2 separate regions of the Homo sapiens genome follow, and region 1 is linked to region 2. The links come from fine-mapping of genetic effects on gene expression. A gene starts in region 2. The other region holds a variant in brackets. All regions are shown on one strand. Distances are from middle to middle.

Region 1 (10,951 bases), 40 kb after region 2:
TGATCTCAGCTCGCTGTAGCCTCTGCCTCCCAGGTTCAAGCGATTCTTGTGCCTCAGCCTCCAGAGTAGCTGGGACTACAGGTGCCCATCATCACACCCGGCTAATTTTTGTATTTTTAGTAGAGACGAGGTTTCCCATGTTGGCCAGGCTGGTCTTTAACTCCTGACCTCAAGTGATCCACCCACCTCGGCCTCCCAAAGTGCTGGGATTACAGGCATGAGCCACCACACCCAGCCACAATAAATTTTTAGACAAATAACAAGACCAGGGGAAAGGACTTGGAATCTCTAGGGGTGGCAGATTGTGAGAACACAAATAAATTGTATATAGAGGCTAGCTTGTAAGGTTTGTTATGGAGATTGTTCTGTTGCTGATAAGGGTCTAAAGCTGTCTCTGGTGGCCAAACTTTGTCCTTCCTGGTAGATGGGGGGAGGGCACCTTTGTAAGTTTATGTCCTACTTTTAGGCAAATAGCGGGAGAGCAGAGGCCTCCTTATATCTGCTTCATCTCAATTGTCTTAAACTCAAAATAATCCTTGTGCCAAAGGGGCACAGTTTGGGGTGGCATATTCTGGTCTCCTACATCTCTCTGCAAGGGGAATTGATGTTTTCACTCTTTTGCAGAATCAGACCTTTTAATGACTAAATTGACACTGTTCTGTGACCTGAAGGGACTGGAGAAAAGATGGCCAGAGTTGTCAGGGGCCTGCCTGGGTTTCCAGCCACAGAGGGGAAGAACTAGCCTGGCAGGATTGAGAGGCAGCTAACCGTCTCCCTGCGGCAAGTGTGGGGGTCAAACTCACCCTCTTTACAAGTCAACTCAACTGCCCGAGTTGGGCAACTTCACAAAGATGAGGTAAGTGAACTGGACCTTTAACAAGGAAAGGCACAAAAGGCCAGAGGAGAAGGAAATAACCTGACTTTGTATTTGTGCACCTGGGGAGATATGCAGCCCTCCTAGATTAAGACCAATCCCCTCAAACAATGAAAGAGATTAAAGGCCCTGGCACAATGAAACAAATAAAAGGGCCAGATGCGGTGGCTCACACCTGAAATCCTAGCACTCAGGGAGGCTGAGGCAGGTGGACTGCTTGAGCTCACGAGTTCAAGACCAGCCTGGGCAACATTGTGAGACCCCCCCCCCCCCATCTCTACCAAAAATACAAAAATTAGCTGGGCATGGTGGCATGTGCCTGTGGTCCCAGCTACTCCAGAGGCTGAGGTGGGAGGATGGCCTGAGCCCAGGAAGTCAAAGCTGCAGTGAGCCGTGATGGCACCACTGCACTCCATCCTGGGTGACAGAGCAAGAACCTGTCTCAAAACAAACAAAAAAGATAAAAGTCATTGTCATCTCTATCATCTCATCAAGATACAAAGACCCAATCCCAGCACTTTGGGGAGCTGAAGCAGCATGATGGCTTGAGCCCAGGAGTTCGAGACCAGCCCAGGCAACAAAGCGAGAGTGAGACCCAGGCTTTATTAAAAAAAAAAAAAAAAAGATCAAGGGGTCCTTTGGAGATTGATGCTAACCCAGCCCCACTAGACACCATGGAGACTTTACCTTGTGCAGGGCCAGTTCTGAGTGGTGTCTTTGTTATGGTATTTAAATTTCTCCTGCTGACTAAGTTAGTCTGAGTTGGGTTTCTTTTTTTTTTTTTTGATGGAGTCTCACTCTGTTGCCCAGGTTGGAGTGCAGTGACTCAGTCTTGGCTCACTGCAACCTCTGCCTCCCGGGTTCAAGCAGTTCTCCTGCCTCAGCCTCCCAAGTAGCTGGGATTACAGGCATGCACCACCACACCCAGCTAATTTTTTGTGTCTTTAGTAGAGACAGGGTTTCACCATGTTGGCCAGGCTGGTCTCAAACTCCTGACCTCGTGATCTGCCTGCCTCAGCCTCCCGAAGTGCTGGGATTACAGGTGTGAGCCACCGCACCCGGCCTGAGTTGGGTTTCTGTTGCTTCTGACTGAGAGCAATACCCGTATGTGGATGAGTGGAATGAAAACCACCCGGGACTCCTGAGCTGGGACCATGGGAAGCGACCTCCCATTACAATGTCAGGGGACAGTCATGTAAACATCTCAACTCCTAAAGGGCCTGTCATGTCAAATTGAGGTGCTGAGCATCTCCTGGCCATCCCTTTGGAGGTTGACAGTGAGGAATTATTTTGACCAGCTTCTTAGAATGTGTGTGTGGGAGAGCAGTGCCGAGCAAGGTAGAAATGTGACTGGGAAGGATGCAACAGAATTTCTACTTTCTAAAAGAAAGTGGAAGGGAAAAACACTGAAATCTAAATCTTCCTTTGAAAAAGCTATTAATAACAGGTGTGGCACAGGGAATGTTTAGGGCAGTGAAACTATTCTATATGATACCATAATGGTGGATACATATCATTATGTTTGTCGAAAGCTATAGAATGTACAATGTGAAGAGTGAACCCTCAAGTAAATGATAGACTTTGATTAATAATAATGCATCAACATTGGCTCAGTTGTAACAAATACACCACCCTAATGCAAGATATTAATATAGGAGAAACTGTGGGCATAGGGGATAGAGAAATATGAGGGACTGTCTGTACTTCCCACTCAATGTTTCCATAAGCCTAAAACTACTCTCAAAAGAGTCTACCAATTAATTAAAACAAAGCTAACAATATAAGGTCATATTTCTAGTCTCATCCAATAAAAAATTATAGTGCGGGGTACAACTGTATTTTCTTCAAAAAAAACCATTCAGTCCAGGCGCAGTGGCTCACGCCTGTAATCCCAGCACTTTGGGAGGCCAAGGAGGGTGGATCACTTGAGGTCAGGAGTTTGAGACCAGCTTGGCCAACATGGTGAAACCCTGTCTCTACCAGACAGGCCAACATGGTGAAACCCTTTCTCTACTAAAAGTACTAAAATTAGCCAGCTGTGGTGGCAGGCACCTATAATCCCAGCTACTCAGGAGGCTGAGGCAGGAGAATTGCTTGAACCCAAGAGGCAGAGGTTACAGTGAGCCAAGATCAGGCCACTGCACTCCAGCTTGGGAGACAGGAGCAAGACTCCATCTCAAAAACAAAACAAACAAACAAACAAAAAAACCGCTCAACACACAGAAAAAATGATGGAAGCCCCAATTTTGTCACACTTCAAATCAGTACAGACCCCCCAGATTCATACACTAAGAGTTTTCCAAAGTTTTCACTATGTTCATTTTCACAGTTTGAACAATCCAATTATTTATCTTAGAAAAATGCCAGAGCCTTGGACAGATAAGCCATATCTAGAACTCTAAGAAACGAATTCATCTACATGTTTTCCACCTCTGGGCAGTCTCCCTCCCCAAGGACAACATTCTTTGCCAAATAAGTCTTGATTCCAACTTGGAAGGGAAGAAGTTTATAAACACACAGGCACAGAGACACACAAAGGCTTCCTGGAGTCTCACAGTTCAGTGAATGAGTCTGTGGCGCTCGCCACTGTTCCCAGATCGCTAGCTGAGTGCTTCACCACATTCCTTTCCCACTCACTTGTCTCCAGCCCACGTTTTGGGGTTCCCCTCCTCCAGGCAGGCAGCCCGGGGCCTGCCGCAAGGGGAGGTGGCCCCTCTCTGTTCTTTGTGAGGACTGGATGCCCATGCCTCTCTCAGCCTAGTTGGGCACCTTGCCCTGTATACTCCTTGGGGACAGCCTCCCTCTGCCAGCTGTCACACAGCAGACAGCCCAACAGACTTCCTCTCATGTAACAGCATGTAATATGTAACATCACCATGTAACCATGCACATAATACTATGTAACATCAGCATGTAACAGTGCATGTAAGATGATGTAACATTATGTAACATCAGCATGGAACATTGTACGTAATGTTGCATGTAACTGCATGTAACATCACATATAACAGCATGTGACATTGTGTGTGACAGCATGTAACATCAGCCTTCTTCCCATATTTCTTAACAGCCACTATGCCAGTGTTTCCCCACTTTTGTCCGTATGTGGCTAGCCAGCTCCTGCTATTCATTTGCAGCCTACACAGCCCTAATGCTACTGAAATCGTTCTCTTCCAGCCCTGCAACAGGACAGAGGAGATATTTATAAGAAATGCCTGCAGAGTGGCATCCCAGCATCCCCATGAAGCCCATCCTTTTCTGAGTCAAAGTCTCAGAAGTCATGTTCTTCCCCGAGAGATATCTGACATTGAGTTCCCAATCTTGCCTCGTGTGTGTCCACTTCTGGTCCTCAGACATGTTCCTTCCTTCACCACGATCTGGGAGACCACAGGGCATTACAGTTCCTCGCATGGCCACAGAGGCAGGCAATCTGGGTCTGAATCCTGGACTTTTGCAGTTATAGCTAAGCAACTCGGGGCAAACCTCTCTAAGCATCCCATTCTTATCTGTAAAGTGGGAATAAGAGTCACGCCTTATGATTCAAAAAACATAATTTTTTGGAGGCTGGGTGCGGTGGCTCATGCCTGTAATCCCAGCACTTTGGGAGGCTGAGGTGGGCAGATCACAAGGTCAGGAGTTTGAGACCAGCCTGACCAATATGATGAAACCCCATCTCTAATAAAAATACAAAAATTAGCTGGACATGGTGGCGGGCACCTGTAGTTCAAACTACTCAGGAGGCTGAGGCAGGAGAATTGCTGAACCCAGGAGGCGGAGGTTGCAGTGAGCCGAGATAGCGCCACTGCAGTCCAGCCAGGGCTACAGAGCGAGACTATTTCAGAAAAAAAAAAAAAAAAAAAAAAAAAGATTAAAAAAAAGATTTTAAAAAAAGTTGTAAAAAAAGAAAATAAAGAGCCACACCCACCATCTAAGGTTATACACAAGGGAACTGCTTGTTCAGCACAAGGCCTGGCTCCCGCTTAAATGCCCACAGTTGGGAGTCATTGTGTTGTCGTTTATTCTCACTTGTCTCCCCCGGGCAGTGAGAGACCCTCTGCCAACGTCACCTTGCTGGACTAAGGACTGGGGAGGCCTGAACAGCACTTTGATTGATTTATCCACCCCATGAGGTTAAATGCTCTACCCTACACCTAAATGGCTGTAGGTTACAGGGTTTTTTCCTTGTTGTTGTTTTGAGACAGGGTGTCACTCTGTCATCCAGGCTGGAGTGCAGTGGCTTGATCTCGGCTCACTGGAAACTTTGCCGCCCAAGTTCAAGTGATTTTCCTGCCTAGGCCTCCTGTGTAGCTGGGATTATAGTAGTGCACCACCACACCCGGCTAATTTTTACATTTTTGATAGAGACAGGATTTCGCCATGTTGGCCAGGCCGGTCTCAAACTCCTGGCCTCAGGTGATCCGCCAGCTTCAGCCTCCCAAAGTGCTGGGATTACAGGCAGGAGCCACTAAGCTCAGCCGCTTACAGGTATTTTTGAACATCAAATGGCTGCCCCTTCTCCGAGCCAAGGATAGAACAATCAGTCACAAAGCCGCAGGACGCCTGTTGACAAGGGCTTCACCTGGGACAACTGCTGTGTTGTACTATCGGCTTTGCCTTAACTCTTGCCGCAGCGTGTGGAGAGTCATGGCGGCTGTAGTCTAAAAGCAGCCTGGTCCTGTCCTCTAAGGCAACTGGGGCTGGGCTGAGACCCTCAAGAATGTGGCCACACATCATGGTCAATAACGTCCTCTCCTTGCCTTCCCTCAAAACCTCTCTTTGAGTTTTGAATGAGAGAGCTGGCGATTGCAGCCTCCTTTGGGATTTAATGAGGACCGTCTGATTATATTCCACCTTGGACTCCTCACAGATATTTTTCCCTCTGTCTGGAATCCCTAACAGACACATTTATACACACACACACACACACACACACACACACACACACACAGCCTGCACATAATAAACTACTGCTCTATTCTTTGATTCTTACCTTTAAAGTCAGTTCCCCAGCCTGGGCAACATAGCAAGATTCCACCTCTGTAAAAAATTAAAAAATTAGCCAGGTGGCACACACCTGTAGTCCTGGCTACCTGGAAGGCTAAAGTGGGAGGATTGCTTGAGCCCAGGAGTTGGAGGCTACACTGAGCTATGATTGGGCCACTGCACTCCAGCCTGGGTGACAGAGGAAGGACCCTGTCTCAAAAAAAAAAAAAAAAAAAGTCAGTTCCCCAGTGCTTAACACAATGCCTAGCAAACAGTGGGCTCTGATTTGCTTTTCCTTAACACATACCAGGGTGTTAATACTTTCCAGACCCATTAAGGAGTTGGTGAGCACCGTGAGGAAAATGCTAGACCAAGAACGCCACACCCAAGACATGCTAACCCCATATCGCCATTGCACCTGGTATTGCCACACAACTCCCTCCATCAGCTTCTACCAAGGTTATCAGCTTCCTGTTCCTTCTGATTCAAATCCCTCAAACTTGGGCCCTTGCTCAAGGCACTAGCCGTTATGAAACCTCTGAAACTT[T/C]CTGTGTGTAAAGCAACAGAGAAACCCCAAAAGAGAGATTGGATGATCTGACGACATCAAAATGTAAAACTTCTGAAGGTTAAAGAAACAATAAATTTAAGGGCAAGCCATAATCTAGGGAAACTGTTTGCCATGAATGTGAGGAATAAAAGGTAGTCTGCTCAGCAAATATTTATTGAGGGCCTACCCTTCACGGGGCACTGGGAACAGAACTGAAGGCTGAAGTAAAGCAGTTTGTTCAGTAGCCTCGTGTATGCCCGTGCCCAGTCACAAAAATGTGCTCATGGGAAGGGTTCCAGCCAGAGGAACCAGTATCTGTGAGGACCTCCAGGTGGGACAGAGCTTGGCACATGGAAGGGGCTGAGAAAATGATGATGTGGCTGGATACAGAGAGCGAGAGGACAAGGCTGGGAGGTGAGGGTGTGGGTGTTGGGAGAGGCCAGACCATCCCAGACCTTGGATACCTTTTTAAAAATTATTTTATTTCAAGAGATATGGGAACGTTTGGATGGATTTTAAGAGGGCTGGCCGGGCGCAGTGGCTCACGCCTGTAATCCCAACACTTTGGGAGGCCAAGGTGGGCAAATCACCCAAGGTCAGGAGTTCGAGACCAGCCTGGCCAACATGGTGAAACACTGTTTCTGCTAAAAATATAAAAATTAGCTGACTGTGGTGGCACACACCTGTAATCCCAGCTACTCAAGAGGCTGAGGCATGAGAATTGCTTGAACTTAGGAGGTGGAGGTTGCAGTGAGCGGAGATGTCACCACTGCATTCCAGCAGCCTGGGTAAGAGAATGAGACTCTGTCTCAAAAACAACAAAACAACGACAACAAAAAACATTGGAAGGGTGTGGCCTCTGCTCACTACAGAGGCACTCACTGCCTCTGTGGTCCCCCTACTCCTGGCATTGAACTCACCGCTACCATGACATGCATTCCACTGCATTGTACTGACTGGTCTCCTTGCTTCTAGGCTGTGAGCGACTGTGATAGAGTTTCTGTCTTCACCATCTCTGTGGACCTAGGGTCAGAACAGTACCTGGCACATTAGTAGTTCTCTGTCCATGTTTAATAAACCATGAAGTCACCCTACAGCACCACCTCCCTGCTTGTGTTTGGAATATGTGCTGTTATATGCTGTTCAGTGTGGCCTGTCTGGAAAGAGGCAAAGACACATGGAAACTTGAGGGTGTTACAAGCTGGAGCAAGTGGGGGCACACCCGTGCCAGCCTCCACACCACCACCAAGGAGCTGCTATTCCAGACAGTGCTTTCTTTTTTCTTTTCCTCTTTCCTTCCTTCCTTCCCTTCCTTCCTTCCTTCCTTCCTTCCTTCCTTCCTTCTTTCCTTCCTTTCCTTCCTTCCTTCTTTCCTTCCTTCCTTCCTTCCTTCCTTCCTTCCTTCCTTCCTTCCTTCCTTCCTTCCTTCCTTTCTTTCTTTCCCTCTCTCTCTTTCTTTCTTCTTTTTTTTTTTTGAGACAGAGTCTTGCTCTGTTGCCCAGGCTGGAGTGGAGTGGAGTGATCTCGGTTCACTGCAACTTCTGCCTCCCAGGTTGAAGCAATTCTCCTGCCTCAGCCTCCCGAGCAGGTGGGACTACAGGCACATGCCACCACACCTGGTTAATTTTTTGTATTTAAGTAGAGAGGAGATTTCACCATGTTGGCCAGGCTGGTCTCAAACTCCTGACCTCAGGTGATCTGCCCACCTCAACTCCCCAAAGTGCTGGGATTACAAGCATGAGTCAACACACCTGGCCTGCAGAGTGCTTTCTGTGTACCAGACCTGGGGTGAGCTCTTTCTGGTGCTGTAATCAGAAAATCCCTCTGTGCAATAGTGTTGCTGAGAGGCAGTGCCCCCAAAGAGACCTTCAGTTCCCTAGCAGCTCTGAATCTGAGCTTGATTGACACGATCAAGTAGAAACCCAAGCCGAGTGTGCACTGAGGACCCGCAACATCCACCCCTTCATTTCATCCTGTCACAAGCATGTTCTGAGCATCTGCTATGTGCCAGGCCCTGTACAAAGTGTGAGGCACAGAGGGGTCCCTAAGCCCAGAGACACACACGCCCTGCTTTCAAGGACAAGAAAGACATAAACAAATTCTTATTCAAGTGGAAACTTCATGAATTTGTGATAAATGTCTCCAAAGGAGAAAAGAAAGGGCACTAGAGGAGTGAATGCCAAGGGGATCCAGCCTCAGTGTTCCCAGGCCTCCCCAGGAGCTGACATTTCAGGCCAAGCCTAAACGCAGATAGGAATTACTGGGTGAGGGTGGAGGGAGGGGTGGAGTGGGTGAGCAGAGGAGAATTCCAGGCAGGGAAAAGGGGTGGGTGATGGTCATGAGGGCTCCTGAGTGACCCAAGCAGCTGCAGTTGCATGAGTCTCTACTAAAAATACAAAAACAAAAACAAAACAAACAAACAAAACAAATTAGCCAGGCGTGTTGTGGTGCACCTATGATCCCAGCTACTCAGGAGGCTGAGGCAGGAGAATCACTTGACCCAGGGAGCGGAGGTTGCAGTGAGACAAGATTGCAGCACTGCACTCCAGCCTGAGCGACAGAGCAAAGACTCCGTCTCAAAAAAAAAAAAAAAAAAAAGAGAAATCATATCCAAGGCTGGCCAGGTGTGGTGGCTCATGCCAGAAATCCCATCACTTTGGGAGGTGAAGGTGGGAGGATCACTTGAGCCCAGGGGTTCAAGACTAACCTAGACAACATAGTGAGACCCTCATCTCTACAAAATAAAAAAATATATATATACAATCTATATATGTATATATATTTATATGTGTGTGTATATGTACACACATGTATACATATAATATATATATGTACACACACACACACCCTGGTAGTCCCCGCTACTCGGGACCCTGAGATAGGATTGCTTGAGCCCAGGAGGTTGAATCTGCAGTGAGCTGTGATCATGCCACTGCGCTCCAGCCTGGGCAACAGAGCAAGATCCTGTCTCAGAAAAAAAAAAGAAGAGAAAGAAAAGGCGACAAGACAATATGGAGGATACACACATAATCTGATTTTTGTAAAAATGTTGTGGGCCAGGCACGGTGGCTCACACTTGTAATCCTAGTACTTTGGGAGGCCAAGGTGGGCAGATCATCTGAAGTCAGGAGTTCAAGACCAGCCTGGCCAACATGGAGAAACCCCGTCTCTACTAAAAATACAAAAATTAGCCGGGTGTGGTGGTGCATGCCTGTAATCCCAGCTACTTGGAAGGGTGAGGCAGGAGACTTGCTTGAACTCAGGAAGCAGAAGTTGCAGTGAGCTGAGATCACCCCACTGCATTCCAGCCTGGGCAACAGAGCGAGACTCCATCTAAAAAAAAAAAAAAGAAGTGTGTGTGTATAGAAAATGTCCAGAAGGATATTTACACAACACAATATTTATTGCTTTCTTCTTTAAATTATCCTATATTGTCTGATTTTTTTATAGTGAGCATGCAGAACTACTATAACCAAGAATAAACAATGCTGGCCAGGGGCAGTGGCTCACACCTGTAATCCCAGCACTTTGGGAGGCTGAGGTGGGCAAATCACCTGAGGTCAGGAGTTCAAGACCAGCCTGGCCAACATGGTGAAACCTCGTCTCTACTTAAAAAAAAAAAAATTAGCCAGGTGTGGTGGCGGGTGCCTGTATTCCCAGCTGCTTGGGAGGCTGAGGCAAGATAATCCCTTGAACCTGGGAGATGGAGGTTGCAGTAAGCAGAGATTGCACCACTGCAATCCACCCTGGGCAACAGAGCTCCATCTCAAAAAAAAAAAAAAAAAAAGGAATAAACAATACTGTGATTTCCACTTGGGGAAATAAAACTATCTTCATGTGCCCTCCTAAAAACATTGAGAGGCAGTGTGTTCTAAACCAGTCCCTCGCACTGGCTCTGACTGGCGTCCGGATTTCCTGGGGGATCTGGTAAAGTGCGGAGTCTGGGTCCGTAGGTTGCCAGCGGGGTCTGCAATCCTGTATTTCTAACAAGCTCCCAGCTGACCTGAGGCTGCTGGTCCAAGGACAACACTTTTGAGCGGTGCTATAAAGCAACCCTGGAATCAGGCCTCGGGGCCTGCCTTCGAATGTGACTTTGTCCCTAAGCCACATCCTGCCTTGGGAAGCAGTGTAGCTCTGCCTTGGGAAAAACACTCCACCACAGTGCAGGGCTCTTAGTTTCCTCTTTTGTAGAAGGTGAGACTAGAGCTGTAGTCGTTAAAACTCCCCGCTTTGTCATTGAGCCTTCTTGGCCACTAATGTGCCAGGAAACCAGCTTTTCTTTTTTTCTTTTTTTTTTTTTTTTTGAGACAGGGTCTCGATGTCACCCAGGCTAGAATGCAGTGGCTCAAACACAGCTCTGCAACCTCAACCTCCTGGACACAAGCGATCCTCCTGCCTCAGCCTTTCACATAGCTAGGATCAAAGGCACACACCACTATGCCTGGCTAATTTTTAGTAGAGATGGGGGGCTTGCTTTGTTGCCCAGGCTGGTCAACTACTGGGCTCAAGCGATCCTCCCACCTCATTCCCCCAAAGTGCTTGGGATT
Region 2 (12,273 bases):
GAGGAAATTAGTCAAACGTGAAGTCAAGAGAGACCCAAGATCCTGGACATCTTGGACTCGGCTGGGTTGGGTTCTCTGTGCTCCTCACCTCCCCAGGACTTCCCCCAACCTACCCACTACCCTACCCACACCCTACCCACTACCAGTATGGGCACATCAGGAACCTCATGCTGTCAGGCTGACAGCTACCTTCAGGCCAGAGCCCCATGCCTACATCCATGCCCTCTGTGCCTAGCACCCAGCCAGCCTTCTGATCTTTTTATTTTATTTATTTTAATAGAGATAGTCTTGCTATGTTATCCAAGCTGGTCTCGAACTCCTGGACTCAAGCGCTTCTCCCACCTTGGCCTCCCAAAGTGCTGAGATTACAGGCATGAGCCACAGTGCCCGGTTGCCCTCTGATCTCTTAAAGGTGGCCAGTGGGAGCTGGGGGCGCCCATTCCCATCCGAGAAGAGATACCTGCAAGAGGAGGCAGCAGACCCTATTCTCTACCCACACTGGGGAGGGCACCACAGGCTGGGGAATCCCTAGGAAAGGTAAATGCAGCCCCACTGAGCTGAGTGTGCATCAGCCTGGTGACATGTGAGCTGGCTACAGAGCACAAGCAGAGAAAGACATTCCCAAGCTTAGGTGGGTAGATGGCAGAGAGCTGTAGGCTCTCCGAGTGGAAGCCAGTATCAGTGAGTTAGGAAGCTGGTCAGGAGGGCAGGGCATGAGGCACGGGGCCAGGTTGGCTGTGGTGGGGGCCAGGATGTGGGAGGAGATGGGCATGTTGGTCCCTGCACTGCAGTGGGAGCTGGCTGACCCTGAGAAGGACAATCCCAGAGGAGGCTGGGGGATGAGGAGGCAGCAGTGAGGGAGCAGAGGCCCTGGTGGGCAGTCAGCCCCCACCTCCATCCCTTCCAGGCATGTCCAAGGAGCATCGTCATCACAGCCCCAGCCTTGTGCCCCTCACAGGCTGCCCCCAGCAGCCCCTGAGGTCAGGAGCCCTTCTGATGACTGAGGGTAGGGAATGGTCCTCTGACTTCTGGCTGGGATACATTCTGGCCTCAGAGGCTCCTTCCTCTCCTCCAAGGAGGCGATTAAAATCCTCTGCCACTTCCTGGCTCTGTAGCTCCACCTTAGAATCCTTCTCTGAGTCACAGAAAGGGTGAACACAGAAATGCTCCCCCCATACCCCACCTCCTTTGACTTCTCGGGCTGCATTTAAAACAAGTGGTGAGATGGTGTTTGTGGAAGCTTTGGAAACTATAAAGTGGCTCTCTGGAGGTTCGTGACCATCCCTGGGATCCACTCTCAGCCTCTCCATAGATGGGCAGAGTGCACGTCTTAAATGCACACTGAATCCTGTGCTGCTTAAACCCCTTCAGTGCTCTCCCACTGCACTTAGAATAAAACCCTTGCCCCTTGCTCTGGTCCTTTCAGCCGCACAGAATGGAACCTTCTTTCAGGGAAAGCACCACACCCTCCTGTCCATTCCTCAAGGGTGCCCAGCTAAGCCCATTCTCCTCAGGCCTTCTGCCTGAACTCTCCTGCCCACCTCTTCCTGTGAGAAGCCTTTCCTGACCCCCTGATCTAAGCCAACCCCTTTGTAATTCTATTAAATTCCTTTTCGCTGTCTGTTTCTCTCTGTAGATTACCTGTCCATGAGGGCAGAGACCTCATCTATTTTATTTTTGTATCCCCAGTATTAGCACAGTGTCTAGTACAAAGTAGGACTTCACACCTATTTGTGGAATGAATGAATGAATGAATGAATCGTATTCCCAATGCACAGTGCTGGGATAATAAGAGTTATTTATTTACTGACAGCTGAGCATGTGCCAGGAACTCCTGCAAGTGCTTCACAGGCATCATTTTCACTTAATCTTTATAATCACCTAACACGGGAGGTGCCATTATTATCCCCATCTTGAGGAGGGATACTGATAAGGATAAGGGAGGAGGCAAAGTGATTTGCTGGTGGTCTTCTCAGGGTCAGAGCTGGAAGAGAGTGGTGAAGTGGGTGGTCCAGCTTCAGCACTCACCTTCCCATGCACCCCGTTATGCTGCCTGGCAACCCCAGAGTCAGGTGAGGGAGCAGCTGAGGGGGTCCAAGCAGCAATGGGTGCCTGGACCGCACAAGCTTTTTCAAACATTCCAGCCCAGGATTCCCCTATTCATTCAGCCAGGAAGCTGGAGGAGGAGGTGGTGGGGGATGGGGGCGGTAGCCCAGAGTGGTCACATATTCCAGGGTCAGAGGGCTCCCTAACTGCTTTGGCAGCCCATTCCATCTTGGAATGTCCCATCTGCCCAAACAGTCTTCTTACACTGGGCCTGAAACACTCTCCTACTTGCTTGTCCTACTTGTAGGTCTACACCCCACGGATGTCACGGAGCCAGCCCCACCCCCGCCCCCACCTCCTTTTGGAGTTATGGTCTCATGTGACTCTGTTCCAGCCCCCATCACCATCCCACCCTCTGGGTTCTCCCAAAAAAAGGCAAGGGCAGCTCTTCTGTCTCCACACCAGGCCTTCCAGACTGGCGAGATGCGGTAAGGGGTCGCGGGTATCGGGGCTTGCCGGAGGACAGCAGCAGATAGAGTCTCTGACCCGGAGCCCTGGAGGCAGCAGAACAGGGGCGCTGGGGGCAGGGAGGTCCTGACCTCTGGGCCACAGCTTAGGGCTGTGGTGTGGCCTGTCCTCTCCATCTCCGCAGCACGAACCCAGACCCAATGGACCCTTCCTCACCACACCGCTGAGGTGTCTGAGCCTCCCGCTGAAACCACATCGGGGAAGAGGGAGAAAGACCCTCGAGGCAGGGACTTGGGGGCTGAGACGGCTGTTGGTTGCCCCTGCTCTGCGGCTGGGGCTCTGTTACAGTCCCCATTCCCTTAAAGCCAGAGGGCCCCTCCCTAATTCCCTAAGGTCCTGAGGCCAACTCACCAGCTCAGTTCCTCCTCTCCCTGCCCTCCGGAGACCCATCCAGGTTCTTCAAACCCCCGGCTGAGGAAGCCACACCTCGGGAATACTCCAGTTCTCTCCTTCGGCGTCACTCCCTGTTCCTTCAGTTCCCGGGTACACACTTTGTCCCAGGCCTGAATTCCACCCCCGAGCTCCCCTTCCTCACCGGCCGCTGCCCCTCGGGCTCAGCTGGGGAAGGACGCCCTGAGTCCCTTGGCCCTACTCCTCCGCCCACGGCGCGCATATCCCCGCCCCCTCCCAACTTCAGAAAGTTTGGCCTGGGGCTCCCCACCTCCGAGCAGGTTCGGGCCCAGCCCCGCCTCCCAGCCCCGCTCGCCGCGCCTGACCTTCATCGCTCCCTTGGCCGGAGACCACCCTAGCATGACCTGCTCCCCCCGCCCGACTCCCAATCCACCAGGGCCCGGGTCTCCAGGTCACGCACTGCCCCCGCGCGCAGCTCCCTAGGCCTGCTGGGGAAGGGAGTGCCGGGGGCCGGATGCTCCGCTCTGGGCGACCGCCGGCGCCCCGCACGCACGCACGCGGCCCGTGCCCCACTTCCCCGGCTGGGGCCGCCCGCAGCCCCGCCAGGACCCCGCGCGCCCCCGCGCCCGGCCTGCCCGCCCGCCCGGCCGTCGGAGCACCTCGCCCGCCTCGTCCTCCTCCAGGCCGCTGAAGCTCCACACTACCAGGCCCTGCAGCAGCAGGATGGCCAGCGCCGTGGCAATCGCCAGCTTGTAGCGCCGCACCAGCTTCTGCACTCGCGCGCTCGCCACCATCTTCCTGCCCGGGACGCGGGGCGCGCGCCCAGCCCTGCAACCCGGCCGCGAGCGCGCGCACGGGCGCGGGGCTGAGCCGCCCCCCCTCCTCCACGCCTAGGGAGGCGGGCCGGGCGCGCGCCGGGGCGGGGCCGGGGGCGGGGCCTGCGGGGCCAAAGCACGGCGCACCGCAGGCTAGGGGTGGAGCCGGGGCTCGCAACACCTTCAGTCCCGGCAGTCGCGGGCGTGGGCTTGAGCGCGTGCCTTCTGCGCTCGTGTCTCCGCCGGTGCCCCTGGCTCCCACGTGTGCTCCCCTCCACCTGGACGGCGAGCGCCTGGTGCTGGGGAGTGGAGGGTCTGCGGCACAACCTCTCTTGCCTGGTGTCGGGGGTCGTGGGCGAGTTCAGTCCCACGCGGGTAAGCTCTCGGTCCCGGGGGCCCAGGGAACGCCAGGGCTCCCAGAGACGCCGCCTTGGGAGAGGGCGTGTGAGAGCCACAGGCGTCTGCTTAAAAACCTGGAGGCCGCACCTGCGGGGCAAAGTCTAACCCCTTGACTGGCATCAGAGAGCCTTCACGAATCCTCCTTTCCGCTCTGCGCTCATCCTAAGCATCCTCAGGCCGCTCCCAGAGTCGTGGTTCTCAAACTACTCTAGCGTGTGTTGGAGTCTCTTGGAGGTCTTGATAAAACAGATTTTTAGTGCCCCTCCTCCCTCCCCCAGAGTGTCTGCTTTGGTAGGTCGGTAGTGAGGCCTAAGCATTAGAATTTTCAGCAGGTTCCCAGGTGATGCTGATGCCTTTGCTCTGGGACCAAACTTGGAGAACCAGTAGACCTCGACACATGCTGCTCCCTCTGCCAAGTCCCCACCCCCTACACCATCAGTGGCATCCTCCCTGTGCGTCCCCAGCACTGTGCAGTGAGCACCAATCATACATCCGGTCGTGACTGCTCTGGGATCTCGCCCTGCCTTGGACACCCAGCAATGCTCAAGAAATGTTGCGGAAAGCAAGCAGGGGAGGCCCAGATTCCCGTCTAACCAGCTGTCCCTAACATTTGTTTGAGAACCCGGCGTGTTCAATGAGCACCGCATTGGACAAGGTCTAAGCACCTGCGGCCTTCCCTAAGCCTGGCAGGCCCATGGAGAGAGGGAAGGCGAGAAGAGCAAAACAGTGGCCACCAAAGCAAGGTGAATCCCCAGCTGGGGAAGCCAGGCACTGGGAGGAGGAAGTCATAAAAATAGCAAACACAAGTTAGAAGGTTTAAAGGGAAGACGTTAGGAACCACTACAGAGAGGTCTGGAAAGAGAAGTGGCTTACAAAAAAAAAAGTTTGAAAAGTTAGAAGGCCATGATGGAGGGGTTTGGAAGTTGCCACAAGGTTGGGTTGATGAGAGAATTCTAAACTGATGTGTACAGGATACACAAGCATTTGATGGTACATAAATAACCTCCTTTAATCGTCTTCTGCGCTTTAGCATTTGTAATCATTCTGTTCCTCCGCGTTTGTTAAATGGGAGAATTGTAAACTATGTTTCCGACGACAGTTTGGCTACTTAAGAGAGCCTACACTTCAATGATTTTGGAAAACATCAGTTGACATCCCGGCAATTGATATGTTAATTAAATATTGATCTTGTGTGCTCATTAAATCAGATCCTCTAGGGACTTCTACCTGCCAAGAATTCCCCCCACAACAATGAAAATAGCTTTATTTTTCACTGATTATATAAGTAATAAATATCCATTATATAACATTTAAACACTAAACGAATAAGAAAAAAAGTAAAAGTCACCTACAATCCCACCCCTTAAGATGATCATCATTAACATTTTAGTGGCTATCCTTTCCTTTCCTTTCCCCCATTTCTCTCTTTTTTTTTTTTTTTTTTTTGAGACGGAGTCTGCTCTGTTGCCCAGGCTGGAGTGCAGTGGCGCGATCTCGGCTCACTGCATGCTCTGCCTCCCAGGTTCACGCCATTCTCCTGCCTCAGCCTCCCAAGTAGTAGCTGGGACTACAGGCGCCCACCACCACGACTGGCTAATTTTTTTTTTTTTTGTATTCTTAGGAGAGACGGGGTTTCACCGTGTTAGCCAGGATGGTCTCAATCTCCTGACCTCATGATCTGCCCACCTCAGCCTCCCAAAGTGTTGGGATTACAGGCGTGGCCACCGCGCCTGGCTTTTTTTTTTTTTTTTTTTTTTTTTTTTTTTTTTTGAGTCTCGTTCTGCCACCCAGGGTGGAGTGCAGTGGTACAATCCCGGCTCACTGCAACCTCTGCCTCCCGGATTCAAGAAATTCTCCTGCCTTGGTCTCCCGAGTAGCTGGGGTTATAGGTGCGCGCCACCATGCCCGGCTTATTTTTGTATTTTTAGTAGAGACGGGGTTTCACCATGTTGGCCAGGCTATTCTCAAACTCCTGACCTTGTGATCCACCTGTCTCGGCCTCCCAAAGTGCTGGGATTACAAGCATGAGCCGCCGAGCCCAGCCCACTGTTGTTTTTTTTTTTTTTTTTTAAACAAATTCGTTATCTGGTTATTGTGGTGCCTGTAATTCCCAGCTACTCAGGAGGCTGAGATAGGAGGATCGCTTGAGCCCAGGAATTTGAGACCAGCCTGGGCAACATGGCAAGTTGTCTCTAAAAAATAATTAAAAATAAAATCCCAGATTATTGAGGTATAGCATGCATAGACTGGCTTAGATTTCACCATATAAATTGCAAGAATCATTGTTTCCCTCTGTCTCCTCTTCGGGTTCTCTAATAGGTTCCATTGTGCTTTTTTCTTTTATTGTAAAAAGTCTTGAAAATACAAAATGGTTTTCAGAAAAGCAGAATAGGAAAGCAGTCTTTAGTCATAATTGGGCTGCCTGCATGATATATTCTTTCTTATGTGAAGAAATGATCCTTATAGTCTTCATTTTTAGGGCTACTTTATGAGGCATGTATGCTGAATGTTTTCAAATGCATTTGCAGCAGCTAGAGTCCGAATTTGGTCCAACACCAGCAGGCATGGAGGTCCCTGCAGGAAAACCTCCAGGCTGTGCCTCCAAGCATCTCCTCGGGCTCTGTCCCGTGGCCTTTATCTGCTTTCTGCTTATCCATCCAGTTCCTTCTGATTGACACTTTACTAGGCTGTCTGCTGGCCCTGATCCTGGCTTTCCCTCTGGATGCTACCTTTGCGTGTACCCTCTGCCAGTCCACACCCACGCCAGCTCTGGATCCCTGGGTCCCTGCTTGTCAGGAAGTTCTAACACCTAGTGAAAGGATCATATGGGTTTTTCTAGCATGACCTAATGAGATTATGAAATATTTTAAAAATAATTTCCACATATTAAAACATTTTTGCATCCCTAGAATGAATGTTACTTGGTATTAGCAGCTGTTTTTTTTCTTTAAGTTGTAGTATAAGTTCAATTGGATTTACTAATATTTTATTTATTTATTTATTTATTTATTTATTTATTTATTTATTTGAGATGGAATCTCGCTCTGTTGCCAGGCTGGAGTTCAGTGGCACAATCTTGGCTCACTGCAACCTCTGCCTCCCGGGTTCAAGCGATTCTCCTGCCTCAGCCTCCCGAGTAACTGGGACTACAGGCACACATCACCACACCCAGCTAATTTTTCTGTTTTTAGTAGAGATGGGATTTCACCATGTTGGCCAGGATGGTCTCAATCTCTTGACCTCATGATCCGCTGGCCTGGGCCTCTCAAAGTGCTGGGATTACAGGTGTGAGCCACCGCACCTGGTCTTATTTATTTATTTATTATTTTGAGACAGGGTCTCACTCTGTCTCTTGGACTGGAGTACAGTGGCATGATTATAGCTCACTGTAACATTGAACTCCTGGACTCAAGTGATCCCCCGCTTCAGCTTCCTGAGAAGCTGAGACCACAGGTGCACCACCATGCTCAGCTAATTTTTAAAAAATTTTCTGTAGACACAGGGTCTCACTATGTTGCACAGGCTGGTCTCGAACTCCTGGGCTCAAGGGATCCACCTCAACCTCCCAAAGTGCTGGGATTACAGGCATGAGCCACCATGCCCGGCCTAAGAATGTTTACATCTATGTTTGTAATGGAGATATACCAGAAGCTGCAAAATCAGAGGTAACTTGTAGGCCTTGTTTATTTGACCAGCACAGGGTTTTGAAGCATTTGAGTTTGAATTCCTGAAGAAGGGGTGCACACTCACCAGTGCCTGCAGCTCCCACCTTTTCCTTTCATTTCATACCCAATCAGCTGCACCCATTTATGTTATTTTCTGGCTCTTGTAGACACCCCCAGTTTGTGGTTTTCTTTTCTCGTTGTTAAAGCTTTGGTAGATTTGGGAATCAGTTATTCCAGTCTACAACATAAGTTGAAGAGCATTTTTTAAATTCTGTTTTTGAAATAATTTATGTAACAGTAGACACTGCTATTCCTTAAGCATTTGAAAAGTCTTGCTAGCAAAAGCATCTAACAGGAGCCCTTTGAGAGCTAATTCTTTGGTAACTTCTGTTAAATAAAAATTATAGGAGGGCCAGGCATGGTGACTCACACCTGCAATCCCAGCACTTTGGGAAACTGAGGCAGGAGGATTGCTTGAGCCTAGGAGTTTGAGACTAGCCTGGGCAACATAGTGAGACCCTGTCTCTATAAAAATAAAAAAAAATTAGCCAGGCATGGTGGTGCACGCCTATAGTCCTAGCTACTAGGGAGGCTGAGGCAGGAGAATCATTTGAGCCCAGAAGGTTGAGAGTGTAGTGAGCTATGATTGTGCCACTGCACTCCAGCTTGGGCAACAGAAGGAGATCCTGTATAAAAAAAAAAAAAAGTATATATATATGGCTAATTTCCTGTGCTAGACCCCAACATACCAGACTAAAAATCAAAATGGAGTCACTATCTGACCTTGTGAGAAATCAAGAGAGAGAAATAATGGCCAATTTCCCAAACAGGCCAGTTTAAAATTTTAATTGGCATAAGTTCCCTCTGCTTTAATCCTTACATTACAAAGTTAGCCTGAAGTAACCTGATGTTCACTCATCAGTTATTTTCTATTGTTCTGTCTCTATATTCCTGCCTTACCACAAAAAAGTAACTTTGAAAATTAATGAAGATGCTCTTTGCTCATTGCATCTGCTGTTTTCAGCCCTTCTCTGTCTGTAAGCCCAACCTCCTCTGCTGGGCTCCCTGGAATACTTTTCTATTTTATGGGTGAAGTGTTGCCTGATTCTAGAATCACAAATAAAGCCAATTAAGATCTTTAAACTATTTTTGTTGTAATTTTGACTTTTGACCATCCTCCCATCTCCTGCCAAAAAATAGCACAAAATTCTGATAGCACAAAATAACCAATAGGGGGAAAATAGAGGTATTAAAGGACAAAATATCAATTTTGAAACCCCAGCATGAGTGAATCCATTTTGATTTTTAGTCTGGTCTGTTGGAGCCTAGTGCAGGAGCTCAGTACAAAACAATGGCCTCCTATAATTCTTACTTAACAGAATCAACATCGTCATTATGAATGTTATTCTAGAGAAAAATGTAAACACTCCACTGCATCTCTCTTATTTTTCTTTTGCAGTTATTTTATTTATATTGTATGTCAACAGTATGAAGTGTTCCAAAAATGAAAGGTCCACATATCTTTCATTTTTCTATTTAGCCAGCCGAGAGCCCATATGCAATATTCGCTTCCTCTTTGGTCCTCTAGTTGTCTAAAAAGCCTGTGGGGTGGGCACGTGTAATTCACCCGGGGATATGAACTGGGCTTCCACACCCAAGCTGAAGAGCACTGGTGATGGAATATTCTGCTCCTGCAAATCATCTTACTTCTACATGGGGTTGCTATAGGAAGCTGGTCCATAATTAGAAGTTGCCCATACGGGCTTTCACTGCTCCTCTGATCCACTTCCTTGACCTGCTTACTAAGCCTAGACAAAGTGCCCATTACTTGGACTCCCAGGGTTGCAGTCTCAGTGCTCAGCTCTTTCACCCCCAGATTCTATTGGCTAGTATATTTCCACTGTGAGAAGTAGAAACTCTGTCTCCACTCCATTCCAAGTGACTGAAACATTAATGAGGCCAGGTGTGGTGGCTCACACCTGTAATCCCAGCACTTGGGAGGCCAAGTGGGGGTGGATCATTTGAGGTCAGGAATTTGAGACCAGCCTGGCCAACATGGTGAAACCCTGTCTCTACTAAAAATTCAAAAATTAGCTGGGCATGGTGGCACGTGCCTGTAATCCCAGCTACTCAGGAGGCTGAGGTAGAAGAATTGAACCCGGGCGGTGGAGGTTGCAGTGAGCCAAGATCAGGCCGCTGCACTCCAGCCTGGGTGACAGAGCTAGGTTCGGTCTCAAAAAAGAAATAAATTAATAAATAAAATAATGAGGGGAAGGTTGGAAAGTTCATACTTTGACCCACTCTCTATTCTCCAAATACTTAACAATGAGAGATAAAGTTTTTAAAGGCATTGATAAGATATATACAAGCTTAAAAACAGGATAAACATTTAGGTGGATAAGAAAGAGAACAAACTGGAAAGCAAAGTGGTGAGTAGGACCAAAGCCAAGGGCCTATGGGGTAATGGGAACTAAAATGTTGCACAGGGAATGGGGGATGGAACCAGACTCTGGCAGCAGCCACAGACTAGAGTGAGGCTACCCTGCTTGTGAAAGGAGACTGAAAACAAAAAGTGCAGCTGACCAGATCTCAGGAGCTATGGCCCAAATGGTGGACCTAGGAAGGCTGCAGAACAAAAACAGCCTCACAACCCAGACTTAGGTCAAGCCATCCTCTAACTCTGGGTCTGCACATCTCCCAATATCAGTGAAGAGCATGAGTTCCCAACCACTATCACAAAACTATTTCTGGACTAGGGCACAGTGAATGCCATGACGAAACTAAACCCACCAGACAAAAAAGGAGAGAGTAAAAAGCACAATGCAAAAACAAAAATTCTCAGCTACAATGAGCCTGTAAACCCAAATTCCAAAGGACATGAAGAAATGGAATGATAAAAAAGATAGCCAAGCAATTCAACAACTGGAATATGAACTTTCTCCACATGAAATTCATCTCTTGGACTCATATGACAAAGACTTGAAAATAAGGATGGCTCAAAGAAGTAAATGAAGAAATCATCTGACAAACAAGAAATTATGAAACAAATGTAGATGAAAATGAAATGAAGATATACATATGAAATATAAATAATTATACATCTCAGAAATAAAAATGTAGAAAAGCAATAAAAATATCTCAAAAGATAGGGTGAACTTTAGACTGGATATAGTTGAAGATAAAATTAGTGAATTGGAAGATAGCTCTAAAGAATTGACAGTGAATGCAGCAAAAAGAGGTACTTTGATTAAAAATAAGAACAGTTTGAAGAGTAGGAGAATAGATTGAGAGACTCAAACTATGTATAACAGGATTTCCAGAGTAAGAAAATAAGGAAAATGGCAAGGAAATAATATTGAAGCTATGATAGCTGAGATTATTTCAGAATTCAAGGAAAATATTAGTAACATACAAGAGGATTTTGATTTTTAAAACTCAATCTGATACTCTAAGTTTTACTGTTTCTTTAATCAGTTTACATTTAGTGCCATTAATGGATTATTTGGATTTTCTTTGATTATGATTATTCCACATTTTCTGCTCACTGCCTTCTTTCTCCACTTTTTTTCCCTTTACTATATTCTGTTGGATTGGTAAAATCTTCTATTCTCCTTTTTCTCTTCCAGCAGTACCAGGGTTGGTACAGCTTTTATCAACTTACTTAATGGCTTTCCTTAATATTTTCTGTGCTATTCACTCCATTGGTGAGGGAGGGATTCCCATCCTAGGTTTACAGAGATGGCCAAACACACGACATTTGATTCTGGGCAGATGAGATTGACAGTAGTGTATTAGTCACATATACTCATAGCCCAGGGCAGGATATCACACACCATGCAGGGCCACACAGGGGTTGCGCTCAGAGACAGTGAGCAACTAAGGGCTGTGGGAGGCAGGCTTTGTAGTATCAAGAGGATGAGATGTCCCCTAGTTTCAGCAGGAAGATGTGACTGGCTTATGTGGATAATTATGCAGGCTGCAGGCTGGCAGGAAACTGAAACCCACTACTCAGGAATAAGCAGGAAGTGCTCCTGGTCCCCTTGATAAGGGGGGTTATTTGGCTGGGGGACCTTATCCAAGGGAGCAGAGTGAGGAGGTGAACTTGTGGCTAGGCCAGTCAAAGCCTCCCAATTTCACCGCATATAAAGTCAGTATCAGCATTTAATACTGCGCCTGAGTTTTAGGCCTTAAACGCATTTTGCTGTTAATTTTCCTTTCAGGGCTATATAGACTGTTCGTCTGCTATAATCTTCCTTAATAATTTAGAAAGCAAGAATTAGAATTCTTTAAAAAAATTTTTTTTTCTTTTTTTAGACAAGGAGCATCTTACTATATTGCCCAGGCTGGCCTTGAATTCCTGGACTCAGGTGATCCTCCCTCTTCAGCCACCCAAGTAGCTGGGACTACAGGTGTGCACCACTGTGCTAGCTCTAGAATTCTTTTTAAAATTCTACTTGTGTTTACTTACA

The links.
Region 1: its variant is fine-mapped to the expression of XYLT2 in whole blood (TOPMed, PIP above 0.99).

Annotation. Positions count from the first base shown.
Region 1 is chr17:50,297,755-50,308,705 of GRCh38, reverse strand. No RefSeq gene overlaps it. Among named protein-coding and RNA genes, the nearest start is that of TMEM92-AS1, 15 kb to the right of the region's middle. RefSeq lists an enhancer at 4,688-5,670. The variant T/C (reference allele first, on the strand shown) is at 6,405.
Region 2 is chr17:50,337,587-50,349,859 of GRCh38, reverse strand. XYLT2 (xylosyltransferase 2) reads right to left here and starts at 3,734. Exons shown (of 11, transcript NM_022167.4): 1 at 3,585-3,734. The coding sequence starts at 3,719. RefSeq lists silencers at 2,318-2,612, 3,428-3,517, 3,588-3,687, 3,748-3,947.